Regions from separate parts of the Homo sapiens genome. Here region 2 is linked to region 1. The links come from fine-mapping of genetic effects on gene expression. A gene starts in region 1. The other region holds a variant in brackets. All regions are shown on one strand. Distances are from middle to middle. Region 1 holds the start of EML4 (EMAP like 4). Region 2 overlaps EML4 (EMAP like 4).

Region 1 (13,044 bases):
GGATTTGCCTTCTATTGCTGTTATTGTTTCTTCTCTGACACCTTCTCTTGCCTCCTAAATATTGGAGGTCCCTCAAGTTCTACATTCTGCTCATTTCCATTTTTTCCCTTAAATCTTTTTCCTCTAAGATTTCTCATAGCTTAAACCATCGGCTCTATTGAGAAGTCTCCTGCGTGTATATTCCCAGACCCAACCCGCTCCTAAACCACAGTCCACATTTCAAACTGTGTGCTGGAGGCTTCCATCTGGACATCTGGTTATGACGCCAAGCACAATCTGTTTAAAACTGAACGCAGCACTTGTACCACTCAGAGTTCTCTATTGCAAACAACAGAAACCCACTCTGGCTGACTCAAGCAGAAAACAAATTCGCTGGGAGGATATCAGGTAGCTCCTTCAGTCGATGGGAAGATCAGAGGGCCAGGCACAGAAAATGGGCAGAAACCCAGGCAGTGTAGGGCACAGAGAGCATGGGCAAGTTTACTCTTTAGGACTCTAGTGAGGACGCTGCCCTGGAGTGGGCTGCCCTACTTCCTACCTCTGCACACCATCACTGTTGCTCTTCAATTTCTCAACTATCTTCAAGCATGGTCTCTGACTGCTAGTTTTTGTATCACTGCCCCCCAACTCATCCCTGCCATTAAAAGACCTGGGTTGAGGCATTCACTTGGCCTAGGTCATGTGCCTGGGCCCCAGCTGTCAAAGATGACCTCTGATTCCCTTCAGCTTCCCACAAAGGTTAATTCATCACTGTATTTTCTTTTCTCCAGTCACATCATTTCTTTAAGTTCCCATTTTAATATAATGCTGCCATTATTCTCTCCATCACTGGGAGCTGAACCTGGATAACCTGTTTTACTCCCTCCTCTTCCTTAGCTTCTGAGGCAATCAGTCCACCCAGCTCTGCGAGGGTTTTGTTTGTTGTTAATTCATGTTTTCCTTCACAAGATTTTTTTTTTCTTGGCGCTTTCTGCAGCTACTGCTTCACTGCAAGTCTCCTAATTGGATTCCCCACTTCCAGTGCCTCTTCCAATGTGTCCACCCGGTTTAATCTTCCTAAAGCAATGCTTTGATCATATCACTTTGCTGCTAAAACTGCATTGTTGATAGGCGTCTCAGTCTGGTGTTCAAGGATCTCCACAACAGAATCCCATTGAGCCCAAAAGGCAAACTGGTGCAGCGAAGAGTTTGATTTTCAGATGTAGATGGATATGGGTTCAAAACTTGATTTTCCCATTTTATAGTTTTATACTCTTGAGGCTCATTTTCCCTGTCTGAAAAATGGGGATAATGAAACCTACCACTTAAGGACCTTCATAAGTCAGAACTTTGAAAGTTGAAACGGTATTATATGTTGTATTTAGGTTGCAACATCAACCCACAGATGCTTATAATAGGCAATATTCAATTTCAGACCTGTCTGGTTCAAAACCTTAAGTAAGGCTGTCATCAGTGTGGTTTAACGCAGGCAGGTTAGGATCAGCATGCTACATGTTTTTGGGGCTAAGTGGCAATCTAACCACCAATTATGGCATTATTACTAATTTCAAACTGCTGACTTACAAATGACCTTTTGGAAATATTTTATTTGCAAGTAGAGAACTTCCTGTGTTATTAATTTTGAGAATTGAATTTCCTTGATTGGCTGCTTTCCACTCTAATATTTCTATTTAAAAGTATTTCCCTGCAGAATATCAATTTTGTAAGGGATTGTTATGAACTCTTCATGGAGAAAAATTTTACATTTATGATGGACACATGAAAATTATTAGCTATTATCTCTAAGGCTTGCGCAACATCCAGTAAATGTAGTAAAGCTATAACACATAAAAAGAAACTTTAAAGTTTGTTCCACAATCTCAACAAGTTCAAATCTCATTTCATGGCATAAATTCTGAATTAGCATTGGGAAAACTTAGCTCTGCAGGCAAGGCTAGTTGTCTTCTTTCTGTAGGTCATGGATGGCACCATGAGAAATGCCAAAATTAACCTCAATAGGCATTCGTTCACTCACTCATGCATCTATGCAGCAGGTCCTCCAAGTGAGGTATGGCTTGTGATCCCCACAGGATAGATTTCAGTCTCATAAGTTCTCACCAAGAATTTACAGCACTACTAATTGCTTGATTCTTTCCTGAAGTCAGCAAGTCTGGAAAGTCTTACGAGAGAGATAACCATCATGCCAAGATTGGTAAAACAGTTATTAAATAAGTATGATATTTTAAACCAGTCTCTACAGACACAGTTTATGAGTGTCTAAATATGCAGTGAAATATATTTTTTGTTTTTGCATTTTAATGTTTTCAAAAAATGAATACTTCTATGATTAAAATAAAATAAAAGTGAAATCCCCCATATCTCTCCTCTACCCTTTCCTTCTTCCACTTAATTTCATTTCTCAGAGGCAGCTACTTTTGACACTTTGGGGTATCTCCTCTCAAACTCCTTTTATTTCTCTTGCAATAATTTTGAAGTTCTCCCTAGGCATTCTTTATGGTTAGAAGCTAGAATAACATTGCCATTTAGCTTCTTATAGATTTTGGAATTCTTTTACACACTGCTTACATTAAACATATTATAAAAATGAAGAATCCCTTTTTTCCCCCACTCAGGTATTAACTCTGATTTTTTTCTATCAAATTTGTGCTTACATGGACTACAGGTTTATACAATCTATATAGTTCCATGACTATAGGGTTTCATTTTTTAAATAACATTCAAATAATGAAATAAAAGGAACTGAAGACACAGCATACTTAAAAAAAACCCTTAATTTTCCTTGGCATTTATTTTAAAATGTCTGCGGGAGAGAAAAGCAAGCAGACAAAAACAGTTTATAGTTACTTTTCAAGATCATCTAGCTAGTGAGAGTAAAACAAAGAAATTGAATAGGAATCTTATTTTTCTTCAAACGTTAGGTCAAGACTTTGACAATGTATCTTCACAAGTATTCTGAAACTCCTCCCACAACATACTAACCTTGACATAGAGGGGAAGGTAAGTATGCAGAGTCAAGATTCGATGTATAAAGAGAATGTTCTGGCCAGGCATGGTGGCTGAAGCCTGTAATCCCAGCACTTCAGGAGGCCAAGGCTAGGCGAATCACTTGAGGTGAGGAGTTCGAGACCAGCCTGGGCAACATGGCCAAACCCTGTCTCTACTAAAAATACAAAAATTAGCTGGGCATGGTGGTGCACAACTGTAATCCCAGCTACTTGGGAGGCTGAGGCATGCTAATTGCTTGAACCCGGGGAAGCGGAGGTTGCCGTGAGCTGAGATCGTGCCACTGCACTCCAGCCTGGGCAACAGAGTGAGACCCTGTTTCAAAAACCAAAACCATAAAGGGAATGTTCTAAGTTTTCATTATTTGATACAGCTATATTTAGCCTTTTCCAATAACTGGGATCCTGAAAAACGGCACATATTTTGCATTTGCCTGAATTAAGTTATACTTAAGGAGCTCAAAGGGGCAATGGAACTCCACATTGAAAATAATCTAAAGATAAATCCTTTGTTAAGGTGAATAACCAAAATAACCCTCCAGTAATTCGTAACTGTTTAGAACCTTAGTATTTGTGTGTGTGTTTGATAATGTTCAGCTATGGTTTCACTTTTGAAAGATGTATGTTAAATTTTATTTTATCATAGTAGTATTAGAGGCTTAGATTGCAAGATGTACTTTGATAAATATAAAACAAAAATTCTGGCTGCTTTAAAACACTCAGGCACTGGTTGTTGAAACAATGTATTCAGATTGACTAGTTTTCAGAATTCTTCTATGTTTGTTCATTATTCAATAAATATTTATCAAAAAGCTGTTCTGTAATATGCACTAAGTATATAATAGAGAGCAAAAACAGGTACAAAATAAGAGCAGCTAATACCTACTGAGCACTTATAACATATTGTGCCCTGTTTTAAGTGCTTTACATATATTACCTCATAGCATCCTCTCAAAAACTCTAAGAAGTAGAAGTGTTATCATCTCCATTTTGCAGTCAATAAAATGGAGGCACAGAGAGGTTAGGTAATTTGTCCAGTGTTTCATAGCTAGTACATGATGAGTTGGGATGTGAATCTGGGCAGCATGATTCCAGAGTCTGCACTCTTAACTGCTGGGATGTACTAACTCTCCTACATTTTAACAGCTTTCCTTGTAGTATACAGTATAATGAATGAGATGCTTATTGAATAAATCATTCAAGCAAATGAAAAATTTTAACTCTGATGAATGCCACGAAGGGGAGTGTGGCAGAAACCAGAGAGCTGTTACCAAAATATGTCTCTTTTCCTTCTGGATACACAGACTACATTCCTAGCCTCCCTTGCAGTCATGTGACCAAGTTCTGGCCAGTGGAATGTGGACAAAAGGGAGGTACACACTTCCAGGTCTGGACCATAAAACATATGTATACCAATATGCCAAGTTCTTATTCTTTTAATCGACCTAAGGCAGAGAGTGTGGCCTGAAGACACAAAGGAACAGCTGTCAGAATTGAGAACTTCTCAAACATTTACTTAGGCTTAATAGAAACTTATGCATATGAAAATGCCCATAGCAGAAGGAACATTGGGTAAATCATTTAAGTTTGAAGAGAAGGAAATTTTAGACACCGTTTAGTCTGTAACCTGAATTTATCTTGGCTGCGTTATGGCCAGTCTCCATATAGTATGGTATTCAGAAACAGGTCTTATATCCAAATAAGAAATGCAAAGTAATTTACATTTTTAGGGAAGATTTTTAAAGAGGCAACAAAGGGAGACGTATACCCCAAGAAGGTTTAACAATCCTTTCAATCATTTAATTCCTCTAAGTCTCTCTCATCATTACATATTTCTTGTCTCCCTTCTTGTTTGTCCCTCTCTCCTGCAACTCTGTGTAGTAGGACTCTGTTTTCCCCTAACTCAGCTTTTTATTATGTATTTATCAATTTATTATGTATAGATCAATTCAGTTCTTCAGTACCTTACAGCTCTTCTCTCTCTTACTCTAATCTGCACAACTGAGCCCCAGGAGGGACTTGACAAACCATGAGAAAGTCTTTAGAAGTATGGGAAATCGTGTTGGGGAAGGGAGGAAGAATATGAACGCTATGTATATTTACATGTTTTGGTTACATGTCCAGACAACCAATTTGCAAATGAATAAAGTGACGCCTAAATAAATTAGGTGATTTGACACTCTTGAGTCATACGGAGTTGGGCCTAGAACTCAGTGTTACTTCATTTGAAATAACCCTTATTATGGTTCCCTAGCAGGCCATCCTATAGCCTGCCATATATGGTCGTTTTGCACCCCTAGACGACAGAACGCTAGGGAGAGTAAGGAAGGCTGAGTTTTTGCTTCTACTAGGTTCGATGACCTTGGGCAGGTTGTCCTCTCTAAGGCTCTGTGTTTTTCTTCATAAGAAGGGTTAGACAAGATGAACTTTTGGGTCATGTCCAGCACTAAAATTCCTTGCTTCTGATCTGTCCCGGGCCCTGCGGCTGTGGCAGTGGTGGTATCGAGCTAGTCAAGAAGCTTCGCCCCTATTTGTCCCCCACCCTATTGGGGGAGAGGGAGAACCTCTCCCTCTTGGTTGCTTCTTTAGTGTCCTTGTAGGACCCACGTGGTGGTCATCTCCCGTCACGGGGGTCCAGTCTTGGCTCTGCGGGCTTCCCAGGGGCCACATAGGGAGAGGATCCTTCATGCATCAGAGTATCGCAGGCCAGAGTCTATGCCTTATCCCCACCTGTTTGGAACCAGCTTCCAAACCGTGGTCCCCAGCCTTCAGCAGGCCTACCGCGCAGGCGCAACCACCAGCCTGGCGCGAGGCGGACAAACGCCGAGGCCGAGGCAAGGTGAGAGGGCGGGGCTGGCAAGACCCCGCCTCCGTGGCGTCACGTGGGAGGCGGAGTCGGAAGTGTGACGGCGTGCGCGGGGCGGGGCTACTGCTGCGCGCGGGCGCGGGGGCGGGGCGGGGCGCGGCGCGGCGCGGCGCTCGCGGCTGCTGCCTGGGAGGGAGGCCGGGCAGGCGGCTGAGCGGCGCGGCTCTCAACGTGACGGGGAAGTGGTTCGGGCGGCCGCGGCTTACTACCCCAGGGCGAACGGACGGACGACGGAGGCGGGAGCCGGTAGCCGAGCCGGGCGACCTAGAGAACGAGCGGGTCAGGCTCAGCGTCGGCCACTCTGTCGGTCCGCTGAATGAAGTGCCCGCCCCTCTAAGCCCGGAGCCCGGCGCTTTCCCCGCAAGATGGACGGTTTCGCCGGCAGTCTCGGTGAGTACGGCTGGGGAGTCCTGCGTCTTCTGCGAAGGGTAGGAACTTTTTTCCTTCCGCACACAGCCCAGGCCCTGCCCTCCCGCCTGCCCCTCGGGGTGGCAGCGGCTCCACTGCACATGTTCCCTTCGAGGCTGCCGCCCCTCCGCGGACTCCGGTGGACTGAGGGCCCCTCCCCCATGTCCAACTCTCCTCTGTGTCAGACCCTCCTTTCCTCCCGGAGCCCCTTTCAGTGCGGGGCCCTCGTTCCCCCAAAGTGGGAACCCCTTCCTTCTCAGGCCCCCCGATAGCTGGCACACCCCTCCCCGTACACTCACGGCTCCCTCCACTTACCCCCCTTCAGAGTTGGGACATTTCTTCAAATCCAGGCTCCTCTTCAGGGTACAACCTTCCACCACCTTTCCACATACACGCCTCTCTTTCAGGGTGGGGATCGCCTTCACCCGAACAGAGGCTCCTTTTTAGGGGAGGGACCCTCATTCCCTCTTCAGGAAGGGGGCATCCCCCGCCCCCAAGTCTTCACTTTAGATTTGAAGGCGACTTTCCAGTATCCTTCAGAGTAGTAGGCAACTTCCTTTTCAATCCCTCCACTTCTCTGAGCATTTTGCAGTGGTGGAGAGACCTAGAAGCATCGGAGCATCATTTGCTTAATGCAGGAAAGGAAGAGGTGCATCTGTGTTGGGGGACCCTCTTTAAGAGTGAAAGCAGAAGTGTTTTCTGGTTCTGCATACATGCTGGGGAGAAGTGATTCTGCCCAATGAATCAATAGGAAAGGGGGCCTCTATCAGGGAAGGAAAGGATTCTCCATTTTTGGAAGATGTTGTCTTTGTGGAATGGAGAAAGGGAAGAGGTTATTAAATAGGCTGAAGTGCCTTTTCAGTGTTCCTTTCACCAGATGAAGGTAATCTTCTGGCTAGGAAAATCAAAACTCCAGGCTAGTATTCGCTGCCCTAGAAGCTGAATCTGGAATTACTATTCTTCGAGGCCATTGAAATCTAGTAAAAGATTAAGTTCAACTGTTAGAATGGTGAGAGAAACAGTTTCAGCTTTGGCTGATAACGCAGTTGTGTGATACCTACTGCTGGAACTGTATTTTGAGTTTTTTATGTGCAGGTAGCTTGTATTCAGACGCCTTTCTTTTACATTTCTTGATAATAAGTCTCTACTTGGTTAATGTTCACTGATCAGTGAGCAGTCTGGCCATAGGCCGTACTATATCCAGATAATATCGAGATGAGATGGATTTTTAAAATCTAAAGTAAAAAAGTAAGTCAAAGAGCAATGGGCCTATTATAGATATTAAATAGTAAAACCTATAATTTTGGCCTTCCCTTTTTCTTGGGCAGAAAAAATTGTCGTTATATTGCTTTCAGAGTGGAAATCCTAAAATAGGAGGCAACTGAGTGTTGTGTTACTCTTTCCTCCTCAAAGGCACCTGTTGTCCATTATCTAACCTTTGATGTCTTGTAATTCCTTACTTAGGTTGGGCTCTTTTTAGAGAGACATCCATTTTTCCCTGGTTCTTTTTTAGCTCCATGCGTTGGTTTATTCACAGTAAGTGTTGGACCGAAAAACTTGTCCTATATGTCCGCTGAAGGGCTGATCTTATACTAAAGTAAAAATTGAGTGTCTTCTTAGGGGATGTTGTGGAGAGCTGTGCTATCTTTATACTGTATTGGGTCCTCATCCTGTAGGAGTGGTGAGATCACTTTAACTTCTTTCGTGTTGGCTCTAAAGATTTCTGGAGGGCTTGTTAAAGCTTCATCTTCTGTAAGTGTTTAGGAGGAGTCTTTCTCACCAGTTGGGGCACTTAATGTTTATTTTCAAACATTGATTATGCTTTGTAATAGCTTTCTTCTTTCTTAACCAGTTTATGAGGCAAGTGATACAAAAGACCGAGAGATGAAGATGAATTGCAGTTGGGGCTCACACTTTTCATAAAGAGCGTCATTGTTGACCCTAATGTTGGATTTAAAAAATTCATTTGATGCCATGCTTTGGGTGGTATGTGATGAGACTTTCCTTTAGATATGGTGTTAATCAGGAGCAGAGGAGATATGCCTATCAGAGGAACCTGCATCTGCAGAGAGGGAAGGAAATGGTTCCTGGCAGTATTTCTGGAGCTGTTCTTGATGAAGATACTTCTCAGTGGGAGCTCTGTGCTTTCTCTTTCTGTCCCCCTTGCAAGAGTAAAACTAGGCCCCATCTTAATTGAAACCTTAAAGGGGTGGGGGAGGAGTAGTGCTGGTATATTTTACTGGTAGTCTTTAAGCGGAGCTTTGCTCAGCTCTTGCCAAATTGCTTGTTTCTGTTCTCTGCAGTTAATTAGCCTAGAGCTTAGAGTTACATTGATCTTTATTTTACCATCAGGAGAGCCATGAATATAAAGGCAAGCACTTCTACTCTAGTAGGTGTTTAAAAACTTTTTTTTTTTTTAAACAAGAAGTCAAAACGTGAAGTTCTTCTGGGGTTACAACTATTGAAAGCATTTATTCTCAAGGAAGTATGTGTGTATTTCCTTTTACATATTAGATAGATTCTTGAAAAATGGTGAAAAAACTACATTTTTATAAGCAGAAAAATTGAGTACTTTATAAACAGAATAATTTTAGAGAAGAGATTATTTCAGAGAATCCTATGGTGACTCATTTTGTGAAGTGAAAACTTAAAATTCAAACTGTACCCTTGATTGTTGCATGTTTAGATAAGAAATCCACTGTGTTATGTGCATTTTATAAGATGTCTAATGGCAATTAAGACTAGGTAGTGGTTTTTTAAATCATAGGAATGATAAGTGATTGGCCATTTTATAAATGCCACATTGAAGTTACATGGTACTGATTATGTTATCTTTGTTTTACATAAAAAACAAGTGAAGAATTCTTTTAATCTCCGCAGCTGATGAATTTCAGGCAACTTGGCTGGCAGGTGCTTGTACTCTGGAATTTCCCTTAGGTATTATTAATATATCTTTTAATCCACAAATTATGGTAACTTAAGGCAGCACTTTAGAAACCTTTTTTTTTTTAAACTTAGGAGAGAAAAGTACTCAATTACCTTGATGTGTTGCCTCTAAATCACTACATATAGATACCCATGTGCAAAATGTATATACTGTATGTATATTAAATCTCAGGTCTATGTGCAAAAGTGGGAAGCTATTCATACAGCTTTTACCGATTTTTTATAAGGCAGGGATTGGGTGCATTTCATGCTTAATCTTTTTAGAATCTCTTTCATAATAGAGGTTTAATTTTAAGACTTTTATCTTGGAATTAACCTAGAGATTAGTCTGTTTTCACTTGAAAGAAACCTTATACCTAACCAGTCAGCTTTAAATTTTTCTGCCTCAAAAGTTAAACAACAAAACTTAAAATCTTCTTCCCCCTAAGAAAAATCATAGTGAATGAAATTGTTGGATTAGGATCTATAAGAAACAACATTCTGGGTACAGGTTGTAAATGTGAACAAGTATAGCAGTATGCTTCAACTTATGGACTATTCAGAAATTAGTCTTTTTAACATCACATTGTTAGAACTGTGATTTCTCATCACAGATAATAGTCTTGCTTTCTTAAAGGAACAATGCTGTATATGATTTTCACATATTAATCTAAAGCATTCCTTATTTACATGAAAATGTTTTTCATGTAATATTTGGAGAGGTTTTTTTTTTAAACTTTTTTTATTGGTTGCCTCTTGAAGAGTTCAAGATAGACTCAAGTTGTGTAACCAGACATGAGTAGTAACTCTTAAATGGTTAGTAGAGCATCTTCAACATGAGTTAGCTAGAGTGTTTTTCAACATATGTATGGATTAACATCGAACATGGGCTAGCACTATGCTTGGTGGTTCTTATGGGAAAGACAAGTAAAAGACATGCTTTTTGCCCTTTAGGAGCTTACTGCCTGGTTTTTAAATAAGTACCATGACTAGGTGCAGTGGCTCACGCCTGTAGTCCCAGCACTTTGGGAGGCTGAGGTGGAAGGATCGATTGAGCCCAGTAGTTTGAGACCAGCCTGGGCAACATAGCAAGACCCTGTCTCTGCAAAAAAAACAAAAATAGGCATAGTGGCATGTGCCTGTAACCCCAGCTACTTGGGAGGCTGAGGCAGGAGGATCACTTGAGCACAGGAGTTGAAGGTTGCAGTGAGCTATGATTGTACCACTGCACTCCACTGGGCCACAGAGCAAACCTCTGCCTCTAAAAAATAAATAAATAAATAAAGTATGTACTGTATGTAGAGATGTTTATTATTAAGCCTAAGTACCAGAAATGGGGATGAAGGGAGGAAGCACCATTTAGAATGCTGTGCTATGTTTCAAGCAAGTAACTTCTGAGAGAACATTTGTTGATTGCTAGATTTATCTCTGCAGAGCTTGGCTTTTTAAAACAATGAAATAATTTAGCAGTTTAAATTCTAGGGAGTCTTTTTCTGTCTTATGTGTAAGTTGGAATAACATGTAGCAAAATACTGTATTTTGTATGTGGGAGTCCATTTCTGTAACATGTAAAACTTCAATATTCATAAGAAATTTTAGAAAAATATTTTGATTTTTAAAATAGATTCTAATACTTGTAAAAAGTTTAGGGAAAGAATCTACTTCATCTAGTATTACCTCAGTGTGGAAGATTCCCAAATCTATAGTATATTTCTTTGTGTGTGTGTGTCTGACGGAGTCTTGCTCTGTCTCCCAGGCTGGAGTACAATGGCACGATCTCAGCTCACTGCAACCTCTGCCTCCTGGGTTCAAGCGATTCTCCTGCCTCAGCCTCCTGAGTAGCTGGGATTACAGTTGTGTACCACCACACCTGGCTAATTTTTGTATTTTTAGTAGAGACAGGTTTTCACTATGTTGGCCAGGCTGGTCTCAAACCCCTGACCTCGGGTGATGGCCACGCACCTTGGCCTCCCAAAGTTCTGGGATTACAGGTGTGAGCCACTGTGCCTGACCCTGTAGTATATTTGTATGTCGGTATATGATCTCTTGTCCTTTAGCTGTCTTAGGCTTTTATAATACCTTAATTTTGCATGCTGTATATGATTTTTAAATATTATTTTAAAGCATTCCTTATTTACAGTTTACAAAGAGCTTTTATCTCATTTAATTTGCATACTAACCTTGGGAGATAAATTATTATACTTTTATAGGTGAAAAAGGTCTAGAAAGTGGTTTTTTTTTGTTTGTTTGTTTTTTGAGACAGAGTCTTGCTCTGTTGCCCAGGCTGGAGTGCAATGGCGCGATCTCGGCTCACTGCAGCCTCCGCCTCCCGGGTTTAGGCAGTTATCTGCCTCAGCCTCCCTAGTAGCTGGGATTACAGGTGCCCGCCAGCATGTCTGGCTAATTTTTGTATTTTTAGTAGAGACGGGGTTTCACCATCTTGGCCAGGCTGGTCTTGAACTCCTGACCTTGTGTGATCCACCCACCTTGGCCTCCCTTACAGGTGTGAGCCACCGTGCCTGGCCGTGTTTTTGTTTGTTTGTTTGTTTTTGAGACGGAGTCTTGCTCTATTGCCCAGGCTGGAGTGCAGTGGCACCATGTTGGCTCACTGCAGCCTCTGCCTCCCGTGTTCAAGCTATTCTCCTGCCTCAAGCCTCCCGAGTAGCTGGGACTACAGGCACTCACCACCACACCTGGCTAATTTTTTGTATTTTTAGTAGAGATGGGGTTTCACTGTGTTAGCCAGGATGGTTGTGATCGCCTGACCTTGTTATTCGCCTGCCTCGGCCTTCCAAAGTGCTGGCATTACAGACGTGAGCCACCGCACCTGGCCAAGAGTGTGTTATTTTTTTAAAAGGTTAAGTCCAGGTTTTTTCTTTTTTTGTATGGTTGGGAGTGTTTGTATCTATATTATTTTTATTTTATTTTATTTTGTTTTTTTGAGACAGAGTTTCTGTCGCCCAGGCTGGAGTACAGTGGCACAGTCTTGGCTCACTGCAACTTCTGCCTCCTGGATTCAAGCGATTCTTGTGCCTCAGCCTCCCGAGTAGCTGAGATGACAGGTGTGCACCACCGCACCCAGCTAATTTTTGTATTTTTAATAGAGAAGAGGTTTTGCCATATTGGCCAAGCTGGTCTTGAACTGCTGTCCTCAAGTGATCCATCCACCTCAGCCTCCCAAAGTGCTGGGATTAGAGGTGTGAGTCACCATGCCCAGCATCATATTATTTTTAAATAAAACACCATAGAAAGGAAAGAAGAATAGAAAAATAAATTATCTTTAGCCCATTTGTATGCAGCTGATGTTAACATGTTAATGTACTTGTTCTTAGTCTTTTCCTATGCTTAGTTTTTTAATAGTTAAAATCATACTGCAGACATAATTTTGCATTCTGTTTTTTTCGTTGGATCCTAACCTTTTTTTTTTTTTCCCACTTGAACTCAGATTTTTCTGATGGAGTCCAGTGGTCTTTTCTCTACTCCAATACTGACTCTTTATAACCCTCAGGTACATACCTGAATCTGAACTTCTCTCCTGAATCAGCTTCTTTTCCTTATTTCCCACTGACTGTATCACCCAGTTTGAAATTTCAGAATCATGTTTTGATTCTTTGCCATTTTTGCCTAGGGCATTAGAATCTCTTCTAAGACTTGTCAATTCTTGTCACCTTTTCTCATCCCTTTTCTTTTCCACCGCTATAGTTCAGGTACTTATTATTCGATGCGTGGATTATTGCATGGCGTCGAGAATCTCCACCTGTCCAGTTTATTTTGTACAGGGCCCTCAGATTTATCTTCCTAAAGCCATGCTTTGATTGTGCTATTCACCCTCTCAGATTGCTT
Region 2 (13,044 bases), 110 kb after region 1:
TATTGTTACTGATCTCGTATTCTGCTTTGATCAGTCCCATCGCCCATCCCTTATTGAGTTTCCTGGTGGTTTATAGTGAAGACAGGTAGAAAGTAGCATTGGGATAATACATACTGACTATAAGTTTTATGATTGTAAGATCAAGAAGCCCGAGAATCTCAGGAAAAAGTTTGCAGTGAGAATTTGACAATGACTGGGGAGAAAAGAGGCTCCTCTTCATCTATGTATTTTACCTAATACCCAAGGTAAAGAGTGTCTTCCTAAAAGAAGAGGTTGCAAACTGGTGTTGTGTGCAGGCCAAAGGTATGTTTTCATATGATGTTTCCCCTTTTTTGGTAGAGGAGTAAACATTTTAAAATTGGCAGGTTTCACAATAAATTATAGATTTTCTATTTCTTTTGAAAAATAAGAAGACCTAGTACCACTAGGTCCACATTCTTCATGGAGTGGCCTTGCTGCTCCCTCGCTGAGATGGGGTATGGGGTATTCGAATACAGTGTCCCCACCCTCAGTCATCATGTACTCTCCCACTTCTCTCATTTTCATTTCCTGCAAATGAATTTGTGTTGTTTTAAAGTGTACATAATAGACTCAGCAGAATTCTAGTTTGCTTACTTGCTGTTCTGCGGACAGTCACTTTAAAGCTTATGAAAAGATACTATAGTGTACTAAATCATAAACAATTGCTAAACAGTGTTTAGAGTGGTCATAAATCCCTTTCAAAGGCAAAAGGATAAATATGTCAATAACCTCATATTATGCTTTACAGTGTGATGTCTTATTTAATCACTTATAATTCCAAACAGTAGGTAGTATTATCACTTTATGTATTGAGAAAACGAAGCCAGTCTTGCAGTTAACAAAGCGTGAAGCTAAGATTCAAGTCGTAATCTTTTCCAAAGCTCATGCTGTTTTCACTATAATGTATTGCCAGAAATTGTTTGAAGTGCTTAGGTTATATACTTGATCTCCAACATATATGACCAATTTATAGATAGTGAAAGCATTGTCATCCTAATATGCATTGCCATTTTTATATCATATCAGAAAAGTTAGAAGCACTACATCATGCCTTTGCTTTTCTACTTGGTTTCTTAGGCTGCTTGACACTTGATACCCAATATGGTGTTCTGAGCTGTGCCTGTTCAAAAAGGAGAGCATTTTTTTTTCTTCCTTGATACTATCACTAACCCTCCCCCTTTGCTATACCTACACTCCTTTCTAAGTGGTGATAGAAGCATCTATTAAATGTCTTTTTTATTCAGAAAGTATTTATGATGTACACCTCTGATAAAAGATCCTGGAATAAATTCCAAAGGATGAGATATCTGCCTTCAGAAAGTTTGTAATCTTAAAAACTAGAGGAAAAATTATATAACAAGTTGACACTTAAAAGAGTAAACTATACAAATAAGGACAAGGAAATACAGATCAGGATGACTGCAGAAGTAGGGAATATTTACAGCTGGTCATTTTCTTATCAAATTTCAGCTATGCTAAAAATCATCAGGAAGCAGAGCCCACTCTTAGATTCAGAAGTAATGAAGACGTACATCATGTGATGTTGAAACCATAGTGTGGGAGGCCTTAGCCTGTTCTTAGATCAAACTCTGAGGCCAACTACACTGAGTAATAATAATAAAAATAACTTGAACTTCTCACCCATAACAAGCACAACCTTTTTTTTTTTTTTTTTGAGACGGAGTCTCACTCTGTCGCCAGGCTGGAGTGCAGTGGCGTGATCTCGGCTCACTGCAACCCCCGCCTCCCAGGTTCAAGCAATTCTCCTGCCTCAGCCTTCCGAGTAGCTGGGATTACAGACATGTACCACCACACCCAGCTAAATTTTGTATTTTTAGTAGAGACGGGGTTTCACCGTGTTGGCCAGGCTGGTCTCAAACTCCTGACCTCGTGATCTGTCTGCCTCGGCCTCCCAAAGTGCTGGGATTACAGGCATGAGCCACCATGCCCAGCCCAAGCAAACCTTTTAATCTGACTGAAGAAATACTTGCAGACATTCAAGAAGTAATTAATCTTTCCTTCCTCTTCATGGTTTGCATCATATAAACTACTGCATTATTACATACTCTTCTCCTTAGGTCGTTTAAGTCATTATTAGAGATCCTAAGGTTGTATCAGCCTCTGGTTGATGATCACATTTTCAGTCTGGTTCTAATGCTATTTTCATATCATGCCAGACAAGTTGGCAAGTGCTAGACATTTCCCATGTATTTGTACTAAGTCTTTGTCTCCCCTTTAGCTCCTTTTGTAACCATTTCACAATCACCATCAATATTATTAAACCTGTTGTATGTAGGTCACTGGGATGCTAGAGGCAGGGTTAAGTCGGGGTGGGGTTTTTTTGGTTTTTTGTTTTCAAAGGACTAAGAAACAATTGCGGCCGCATGCGGTGGCTCACACAGGTAATCCCAGCACTTTGGGAGGCTGAGGGGGCGCGGATCACTTGAAGTCGGAAGTTTGAGACCAATCTGGCCAACGTGGTGAAACCACATGTCTACTAAAAATGCAAAAATGAGCCAGTTGTGATGGTGCATGCCTGTAATCCCAGCTACTTGGGAGGCTGAGTGGGGAGAATCACTTAAACCCGGGTGGCGGAGGTTGCGGTGAGCCGAGCTCATGCGACTGCACTCCAGCCTGGGTGACAGAGCGGGACTCCATCTCAAAAAAAAAAAAAAAAAAAAAAAAAAAAAATCCATCAGTTGAGTGAAGTATTTTCTTTTGTAAAAGATGTGTAATATTGCCCAGGCATGGTGGTTCACGCCTGTAATCTCAGCACTTTGAGAAGCTGAGGTGGTTAGATCACCTGAGGTCATGAGTTCAAGATCAGCCTGACCAACATGGTGAAACCCCATCTCTACTAAAAATACAAAAAAATTAGCAAGGCATGGTGGCACATGCCTATAATCCCAGCTACTCGGGAGGCTGAGGCAGGAGAATCACTTGAACCCGGGAGGTGGAAGTTACAGTGAGCCAAGATGGCACCATTGCACTCTAGCCTGGGCAACAAGAGCGAAACTCTCTTGGAAAAAAAAAAAATGTATTGATTTGATTCTAGACTTGTGTTTTTTAACGTTTTAGTTTTAGACTGTCGCAGATCTTATAAACACCTATTGGTTTATGTAAATATAAGATACCTATGCTGCCAATAAGGAAACTGTTTCTTAGCACTGTCTTGAAAATCTCAGGGTATTATATTTGAAATCTTGAGGTCATGTTTTTGTTTTTTATTATTGCAAGATGTGTGTGTGTGTATATATATATGTGCATGCCACATTTTCCTTATTCAGTTGAGTTTAGGTTGTTTCCACATCTTGGCTATTGTGAATAGTGCTGCTGTGAACCTGAGAATACTGATATCTCCTCAAGATCCTAATTTCAGTTCTTCTAGAAAATACCCAGTAGTGGGATTGCAGCATCATATGGTAGTTGTGTTTTTAACTTTTTGAGGAACCTTCATCCTGCTTTCCATAGCGACTATACCATTTTGCATTCCTACCAGCAGTGTACAAGGGTCCCAGTTTCTCCACATCCTCATCAACACTTGCCGTCTTTTTTTTTTTTTTGAGACGCAGTCTTGCTCTGTCACCCAGGCTGGAGTGCAGTGGCGCGATCTTGGCTCACTGCAAGCTCCACCTCCCAGGTTCACGCCATTCTCCTGCCTCAGCCTCCCAAGTAGCTGGGACTACAGGTGCCCGCCATCATGCCTGGCTAATTTTTTTTATTTTTTATTTTTTCATATTTGTAGTAGAGACGGGGTTTCACCGTGTTAGCCACGATGGTCTCAATCTCCTGACCTCATGATCTGCCCATCTCAGCCTCCCAAAGTGCTGGAATTACAGGCGTGAGCCACCGCGCCCGGCTGTCTTTTTTTATTATTATTATTATTATTATTAATAGCCATCCGACAGGTATAAGGTAATATTTCATTGTGATTGTGATCTGCATTTCTCTGATGATTAGTGATGTTGAACAGTTTTTTGTATACCTGTTGGCCATTTTTATGTCTTTGGAGAGACTACAAAAGAAAAGATGTCCTTAGTCCATTTTAAAATCTGTTATTTAACTATTGAGTTCCTTATATATTTTTGAGATTAACCCTTTATTAGATATATGGCTTGCAAATATTTTCTCCCGTTCTGTAGGTGGCCTTTTTATTGTTGATTGTTTCCTGGCATAAGAAAAAGTTATGCCGTTTAACATCTGTAGGTTCATCCAGTAGCGTGGTAGACATGGTTGTTGTCTATCCAAATAATCTCACTCTTCTTTTCAAGTGTTAGAAAAACTGCTGTCACAAAATTTTCTTTAGCATTTTTCTACTCAGCCTTCCTGGACTTCTTGTAGAAATGTGTCAACTTAGATAAATTATATTTTAATTATCAAAAAATTATTCTCAGTTAAGGAAATGGCCATTGGTTTATTTTTCCCTACAATGTTTTAGACTAGGACTTTATAGTATCACTTTGTTTTCTGTATGCTGTGTAATGTAGTTGGCCCTCTGTATCCATGGGTTCTACATCCACAGATTCAGCCAACCATGGGTTGAAAATATTTGGGGAAAAAAATTGTCTGTTATACTGAATATATGCAGACTTTTGTCATTATTTTCTAAACAATACAACAACTATTTACATAGCATTCACATCATATTATGAGTAATCTAGAGATGATTCAAAATATACAGGTTATATGTGAATACTATGCCATTTTGTATCAGGAAATTGAGCATCCATGGATTTGGGTATCTGAGGAAGGTGTTCCTAAAATCAGTCCCCCGTGGATACAGGACAACTATATAACAAAAACAATTGTATATAATGAGACTAAAACTTTGAAGTAGTCATTTTTGTCTTGTTTTTATTGTATCACGTTAATAATCCACTTTTGTATGACTATACAGAAAATACGTATGACTTAACTTTTGTCTTGTGTTTCAACAGAAGGAGAATATATTAAAATGTTTATGCGCGGTCGGCCAATTACCATGTTCATTCCTTCCGATGTTGACAACTATGATGACATCAGAACGGAACTGCCTCCTGAGAAGCTCAAACTGGAGTGGGCGTATCCTTCTCTACCATGACAGCAAATTCATTTGCTTTGTCTCTAGTTAACAAATCAGTTAACGTATTCTCTGTCAAAATTGTCTTTATACAAAAAAAAAAAGTAACAGCTACTTAAAAAATTAAAAAGGAAACATCAGGCCAGGCGCGGTGGTTCACGCTGGTAATCCTAGCACTTTGGGAGGCCGAGGCAGGCGGATCACAAAGTCAGTAGTTCAAGACCAGCCTAGTCAACATTGTGAAACCCCATCTCTACTAAAGATACAAAAAATTAGCCAGGTGTGGTGGTGCATGCCTGTAATCCCAGCTACTCGGGAGGCTGAGGCAGGAGAATCACTTGAACCCGGGAGGCGGAGGTTGCAGTGAGCCAAGATCACGCCATTGGACTCCAGCCTGGGCGACCGGGGAAAACTCTGTCTCAAAAGAAAAAAAAAAAAAAAGGAGACATTATCTCTAATTCTTTGCTGTTAGCAATTTAAAGCCATCAAAGTTTATATCTTTGGAAAGGATAAACAATATTTTTTGAACATCATGGCAAGTACTTGCTAGAAAAGGCACTAGACTGGAACTGGAAGACTAGTGTTTGAGTTTTGGCCCTGCCACTTACTCTCCGTGAACCTTAACTTTCTTTACTTATAAAAGGGGTTAATTAATAACCCATACCTCACAGGGGCTGTTGTAGGAATTAAATAAGAAAACATCAGTTAAGCATTTTGTAACCTCAAATTAACAAGGCTGATTCTAATTCAGAATTAACTTTTCAGCCAGACTTTTTTTTAAATGACTGTTAAAGGAGAGCTTTCCTAATTTCACCTAGAAATTTTCACTTCTTTTAGAACCTCCAAGAAACTCAGTGAAACAGAAGGAGTTGGTAGTTTGAACTCTGTTGTCTGCCTCCATTCTCCTGCACTTCCTCCCACGTCCCTTGAATTATTCCCTTCTTAGGCAGATATCAGCTTGGACACACTCACCAATCCTTTCATTCTGTACAACATATTTTTAACAAACATTCTGCCTACCAAACTGTTCCTTGCTATTACTTATTTATCATTTAGGTCCAGCATAAATATCCCTTTTCCAGATAGGCCTTCTTTTGGTCCCTCCCTTCTCTCTCTTTTTCTCTCCATCTAAATTAGGTCCTCCATTTGGGCTTTCTCCTAGCAGTCTTTTTTTTACCCCCCCACGATTTGTAATTTTATATTTGGTGATTTTTTTTTTTCTTTGCCAGAGGATAAGCTCTAGAGACATAGGGCCTACATTTTTTTTGTTCAGAACTGAATGTTCACCATTATGCCTGATACACATTAGGATTTCAATACATATTTGTCTGGTAAATGAGGAAACTAAGATCTTAACATACTGAAAGAGTCAGGTTACGCTAGGGATAATGGCAGGATATGAGTTTTCCTTTTTTTTGGTGGAGGGGTGGGGGTGGGCGGCAACAGGGTCTCTGTGGCCCAGGCTGGAGTGCAGTGGCACGATCACTGCTCACTGTAGCCTTGACCTGACCTCCTGGGCTCAAGTGATTCTCCCACCTCAGACTCCCAAGTAGCTGGAACTACAGGCACAGGCCACCATGCCTGGCTAATTTTTTTTATTTTCTGTCGAGATGGGGTCTCACTATTGCCCGCACTACTCTCAAACTCCTGGACTGAAGTGATCCTCCCACCTTGGCCTCCTGAAGGGCTAGGATTACACGTGTGAGCACTCTGCCCGTCCAGGACATGAGTTTTCTAGTTCTAGTTCAGTCTTCTTCATTGTACCTTCCTAATTCCTTAAGTATCCATGAAAAATCTGTTAACAACTTGAAAACTGTGTTTATTTAAAACCTTGACTCTTTTTCTGTTAAGATATGGTTATCGAGGAAAGGACTGTAGAGCTAATGTTTACCTTCTTCCGACCGGGAAAATAGTTTATTTCATTGCATCAGTAGTAGTACTATTTAATTATGAGGAGAGAACTCAGCGACACTACCTGGGCCATACAGACTGTGTGAAATGGTTGGTATCATTTAACATTGGTTCATTTTTGTTCTTTCAGGCCCTCATTTTGTATTTTTTAAATTTGGGTTTTATTGAAAGTGATTTCTTGTGGAAAGCTCAGAATGTAAAAATATTATGGGTCATCTGTTGAATATATTTTAAAAAGAAAAAAAGGACTTTCGGCCTCCAAAATGGTGGTGTGGTATCAGCAGCAACAAAACACATCCTCCATAAATCATGATTGGAACCTCTTCTGCTTTCTCATGTCGTACAGTCCTTCTCTTCTCTGGTCTGTAGTGTGAAACATATATGGGACAGACTGGACATTTTCAGGTTTCTGAAAGTGATTATTGGTTACTCGATATTTATTGAGGATTTGTCCTATGTAGATAAATTTTATACTTGAAGCTTTATTCTTTTGGGAAGAAAGAAATCTAGCTGAATAAGGATCATAAGTATGCCGTAGGATGTCATACTACAAATGTGAGAACTCCTTTTAAATGCTTTTAAATTATTTTGTTACTTTTTAGTTAAATGCAATTATTTATTGTTTATTA[A/T]TATTTTCCAACTTTTATTTTTTATTTATTACCCTTTTCCCCACTTAGATCCAAGGACTGACTGGATGTTTTCCAACATTTAAAAGCTTTTATGTCTGTACTATGCTGGCACCTGTATCTTTATCCAGAAAAAAATTAATAGATGACTATTATAATATTATATAGATATTGAACTTTTGGAGTTGATTAAAATATTGCCTTTTACACTTGCAGAATAATGTATGTACAAAACTATTTACTGCAGCATTGTTTGTGATGAAGATTAGAAACAGCCTAAGTATTTTTCAGTTGGGGACTACTGGTGAGGTTGTAGTGTACCTATAGGTCACCATGTAGCTGTAAAGAATGAGGAAGCACTTTATGTATTAATATGTAAATATCCCTCTGATGTGTTCTTAAGTACAAATATTTAAGAGCAAGAGAATGTTCACAGTGTACAACCGTTGTTGAAAGAGTCTAGATATGGACATAAAGATGTCTTTTTCAGAAATTTGCTAGTCACTCATATACGTGCTGTGAGTAATTTAGGCACATATGCTACGCTACTTCCCATTTCTATTTAAAAATTCCTTGCCTCAGTTTGACTTACAAGAATTTAGCGCTAAGAACTAATTAAAAGATTGAAAGCACTATGTGTGAAGATGCTCATTGCTGTTTTCTTTTGTTGAAAAGTAAGAAATGGCCTAAAAGATGGAAGAGTTGTCAAGTCAGCATGTATGAGGATTATGTAGCAAAAGGAAAAAATGCTTGTACTTTAATAGATTAAAATTAAACAGCACAATATTGCATCTTCACTATAATAAAGTCGTGTGATTTGTATGCCATTGTGCGTGGACTAGAAAGGAACTTCAGCAAATGAAAACAGTTCGTTAGCATGCCACAGTTATAAATATTTTCTTTGAACTTAGTGTTTCATTAATCTGTGCAGCTTAACAAGTAAAAAGTACAGCTGAAAATTCAGAAATCTTCAGATATTTGATGATTGTTTGATTTGCTGAAGAAAACAGATAAACGTATGTTTTTTAACGATTAAAAACTGCTTATTTGAAAAATGTCAGTACAAAGGTATTCTGTTGTTTCATGTTTCCTGTGTTTAAAATCATTCTTAATACTGCTTTTTAGCCTTGCTATACATCCTGACAAAATTAGGATTGCAACTGGACAGATAGCTGGCGTGGATAAAGATGGAAGGGTGAGTGGCATAGTGTTATGCCTTCTGTACCTAGAGACATTGCTGTTAGAGTGGAATCTATTGTAATTTTAACCACAACTCATTTGTTTTATTCTTTTAAAATTTAAGTACTGAGGAATTTCTAGTATAAGCATGGAAAAAACATTAGGATATAAGAACACTTTAAAAGACAGAGTCATACTAATAAATTTTGTTTTTAAAAAATAAGTGTTCTCCCTTAAGAAGCTATTTACTGTAAAAATGGGAAAACTGATACGCTCGTTACATTTTCTTTATATAAAATAACATATAAAGTAACCAGTGTCTGCGGGAAGGTACTGCAGTTTCCCTTAGTTGATGAACCTGTTGATTCTTATTTACTTTCTTAATTAATTAATTAATTAATTATAGGGGTGGAATCTCACTTCGTTGCCCAGGCTGGGCTCAAACTCCTGGGCTCAAGTGATCCTCCAGCCTTGGCCTCTTGAGTGAGTAGCTGGACTACAGGTGTGTGCCACCATGCCCGGCTAACTCTTGATTTTATGTGTGACTAGAACTGATACAACTTAAAGAGTTACAGTTACTATTTAATATTATTCAGTTGGTTTGTATAACAAATACCTTATTTCTAAGGATCAACAGTGACTATTAATGGTGACTGAGTAACGTATGTATGACTATACTCATGACATTCTCAGGCTTCAGTTTCTTTAAAGAAAAGGAGTAGAAGGTTTCTACTGGATAACTTCTAAGACCCCTTCCAGTTTCAAATGCTATTTAAGGGCTGTTTAGCAGTTTATTGGACATTGATAAAATGTGTTATTTTCTCAGGAATGAAGATTAGTAATACTAAAAGCAAAAGTATCCGGAGCAGATTTGCCTGGATTAGAATCCTGACTCCACCTTTTTTTTTTCTTTTTTTCTTTTTTTTTTTGAGACGGAGTCTTGCTCTGTCTCCCAGGCTGGAGTGCAGTGGCACAATATTGGCTCACTGCAACCTGTGTCTCCCAGGTTCAAGCAATTCACCTGCCTCAGCCTCCTGAGTAGCTGTGACTACAGGCGCGTACTACCATGCCTGGCTAATTTTTTATATTTTTAATAGAGATGGGTTTTCACTCTTGTTAGCCAGGATGGTCTTAATCTCCTGACCTCATGATCCGCCCGCCTCGGCCTCCCAAAGTGCTAGGATTACCGGTGTGGGCCCCCGTGCCTGGCCGACTCAACCTTTTAATAGCGGTATCACTTTGGGCAAGTTATTTAAATCTCTGTATTCCAATTTCTTCATCTGTTAAATGATAATTATAATAGTGTACCTGTAGTGCATAGGATTAAATGAATTAATATGTGTAATACTTAGAATAGTATGTGTAACATAGTAAATACACAAGTTATTTGCTGCTATTTTCTTATTTTCACAGTATAAGAAAATACCTACTTAAGATTCATTTGGAGGCATGTCTAAATCTAGTAATTTATTAGAAGCTTATCCATCCCTATTACTTTTTTAAATGGCATTAGTTCTGTGTGCTATTGGTGTTTATTTGCATCCACCTGTCCAGTTGCTCTGCTGTCTTGTGTTTTTGCAGCCTCTACAACCCCACGTCAGAGTGTGGGATTCTGTTACTCTATCCACACTGCAGATTATTGGACTTGGCACTTTTGAGCGTGGAGTAGGATGCCTGGATTTTTCAAAAGCAGTAAGTAACAATTTTTAGAGAAGTAAGCAAGCTGAACAAAAAAGCAGGAAAGAAGTTAAGCTCAGTTTTGTGTTTATGTGGCCATGAAGTGATAATCCTGAGTTGAAAAATGAGATGCTAGCTATTGCTAACATATTAGCTATTGCTAAATGGCTAGCATTTTGACCTAAGTCCTAAAGTACTTTGGTTTAGTTAGGATGCAAGATATTTTACTTTAATTATTCTTGGAATTATGCTGCCTTGAGGTAGAGCTCCCATGTAGTAGCAGGAAGTGGTTAGAGGAATATATACAAAGCATAGTACAATTTCAGACAAGCAATAGGATGCATTTTTGCCTTACCTTGAATCATAGAAAAGATCTATTTTATTTTAAAAATTCACAGCAAACTTGGCCAGTTCTGTACAAATATTGGCTTTTCTTGATGTCATATTTGAGCAGCAGAAACAATCAGACCTTTGTATTTCCTGAAGTCCTGAATTATCTTGGTTTTGAATTGATGACAACATGGGTTTAAAATTTTCCCCAGCAGTCCTTTCTAAGTGTTGAGGCTTTATTCTAAGGGTAAAATAAGACAAGATCTTACTCATTTAAACATTCTGGTTTTTTCTTGAATTGTATGTAATTATGATTATAAAGTATACAGTCAACCTTCTATATTTTAGGATACATACTTTTTTAGTTTCAAAGATAAATACCCCTGTAGATTTTATGTGACCTCAGTTATATATTCATATTATCTCTTCAGTTCTTAGCCATTGGCAACTGTATTCTGGATTATGGGAGTTTTGTGGGACATGGAGGAAAGGACACTTTTAGAGCAGAAAGATAAATTTTAGTGAATTTAGGAACTTTGCTAGCTTGAAGGCACTGAATGTCAAGGGTCCAACAAGTCAGGAATTGGGAGAAGGACATTTAGAAAAGGAGATAAGAGGTCATAAAGGCAATACTTTTGCTACTTTATTTTCTCCCATAAATCTCTATAGCAGGAACTGTTGTCAGGTTGTTGATAACCATTGTTACGGTGTTAAGACCATCTTGAATTGCCTCATAACTCTATCTTTTCTAATTCAGATAATATTCCAATTTAGGCTAAGAGATAAAGAGGAGAAGAGAGTAAGCTCTGCCCTTCCTCAGTGCCTCTCACTCTTCACTACAATGTTTCTCTGTTCCATAACATTGTAAAGCATATTTCACAAATGATACTATTTTTAAAAAGCATTTAATATCATCTATAGGTATTTTTCTTAAACTGGAATACTTAAAATACGTGAATGAGAATGGTTTCAGAAAAACAGGAAATTTCATTATAAAAAAGGAATTTCATTATAATTTTACTTAGGTTGTTTATTCAAGTTAATGTAAGTCAGGTATCTCACAGAAAACTGAAATCAGCAAACTCTAAAATAGCCATGAATTTTAGCTTATTCTGTCAAACTGTCAAAATTTAGTGAGGAACAAAGTTATGAAATTGTGTACATTTCTTCTTACCTACCACAAGGAAAAATAGCTTAATACAGGCAGCAAGAAGGAAGCATAAGATGCAGAAGGGACTAGGATAGCCTCAAAATTAGTCACTATCTCTGAATAATAGGAGTGACTAGATGGCAAGTGGAAATAACCTGGAGGGATGAGGGGATTTAAATAGAATATTTTGTAAAAGAATCTTTATATTTTTGAGGAAAATACAATTGTAGTAAATAGTGTATTCATTATGTTTCAGAGAGCGATGAGTTTAAAGGATTTTGGGTTATCTTACTATTTGCAGTTTTAATAAGATGGTATTTCTTTCTTAGAATGTTAGCCCTATCAGTGAATTTTAAAATGCCTCTGATTGACTTTTCTTTAGGATTCAGGTGTTCATTTATGTATTATTGATGACTCCAATGAGCATATGCTTACTGTATGGGACTGGCAGAAGAAAGCAAAAGGAGCAGAAATAAAGGTAAATTTTTAAAAAACCGAGTATTGTGTTTTAGAGTACGTTACTTGTTTTGCAGGTATTTGGAACTATATTGGTATTAGAACTATCTATTCGTAAGTCGCAAAAGCAGATCTACTAGCCAAATTCAGCAAATTTAGTGATTTGTCATAATCGTTAAGATATTAACACTATAGTTATACAAGATAAAATAGTCAAGCAACTTGAAGCAATTTCAATATTTCAGACATTACTATAGTCCTGAAATGCCAGAGTAGATGGATGTGTGATCTCATAATTAAGACTGAACACACTTCTTGGTTTTCTTCTTTAATAAAACATGTAATTTCATTCCATCTTTAAAGCTTTAGAAATCTAGAGGAAAAATTCAGTAGGAATACGACTGATGTAACTGAAGGGCTTATGTTAAGTTTTTTGGTCTTAATTGTGTTTGTAGGATTATTTTAGAAAATTCAATAGCATTTATAATTGCTATAATTGCATTATAACTCTTTACAGTACAAGGGTTGATCTCTGTGTAGATCAAGCTGTACGTTGTAAGAGAAGAATGTAAAATGCATTGAAGCTGGGTTTATATGAGCCAGAAATGGACTTCTCCCTCTGACAGGCATTTAAA

What was found.
Region 2: its variant is fine-mapped to the expression of EML4 in whole blood (TOPMed, PIP 0.99).

What each region holds. Positions count from the first base shown.
Region 1 is chr2:42,163,379-42,176,422 of GRCh38, forward strand. EML4 (EMAP like 4) reads left to right here and starts at 5,975. Exons shown (of 23, transcript NM_019063.5): 1 at 5,975-6,258. The coding sequence starts at 6,234. It overlaps EML4-AS1 (EML4 antisense RNA 1), which reads right to left and starts at 6,853. Exons shown (of 4, transcript NR_110584.1): 1 at 6,592-6,853. RefSeq lists enhancers at 5,557-5,696, 5,709-6,361 and silencers at 5,777-5,826, 5,927-5,986.
Region 2 is chr2:42,275,892-42,288,935 of GRCh38, forward strand. EML4 (EMAP like 4) reads left to right here. Exons shown (of 23, transcript NM_019063.5): 7 at 4,959-5,082; 8 at 6,932-7,081; 9 at 8,743-8,812; 10 at 10,378-10,488; 11 at 12,336-12,431. Among named protein-coding and RNA genes, the nearest start is that of COX7A2L, 79 kb to the right of the region's middle. The variant A/T (reference allele first, on the strand shown) is at 7,621.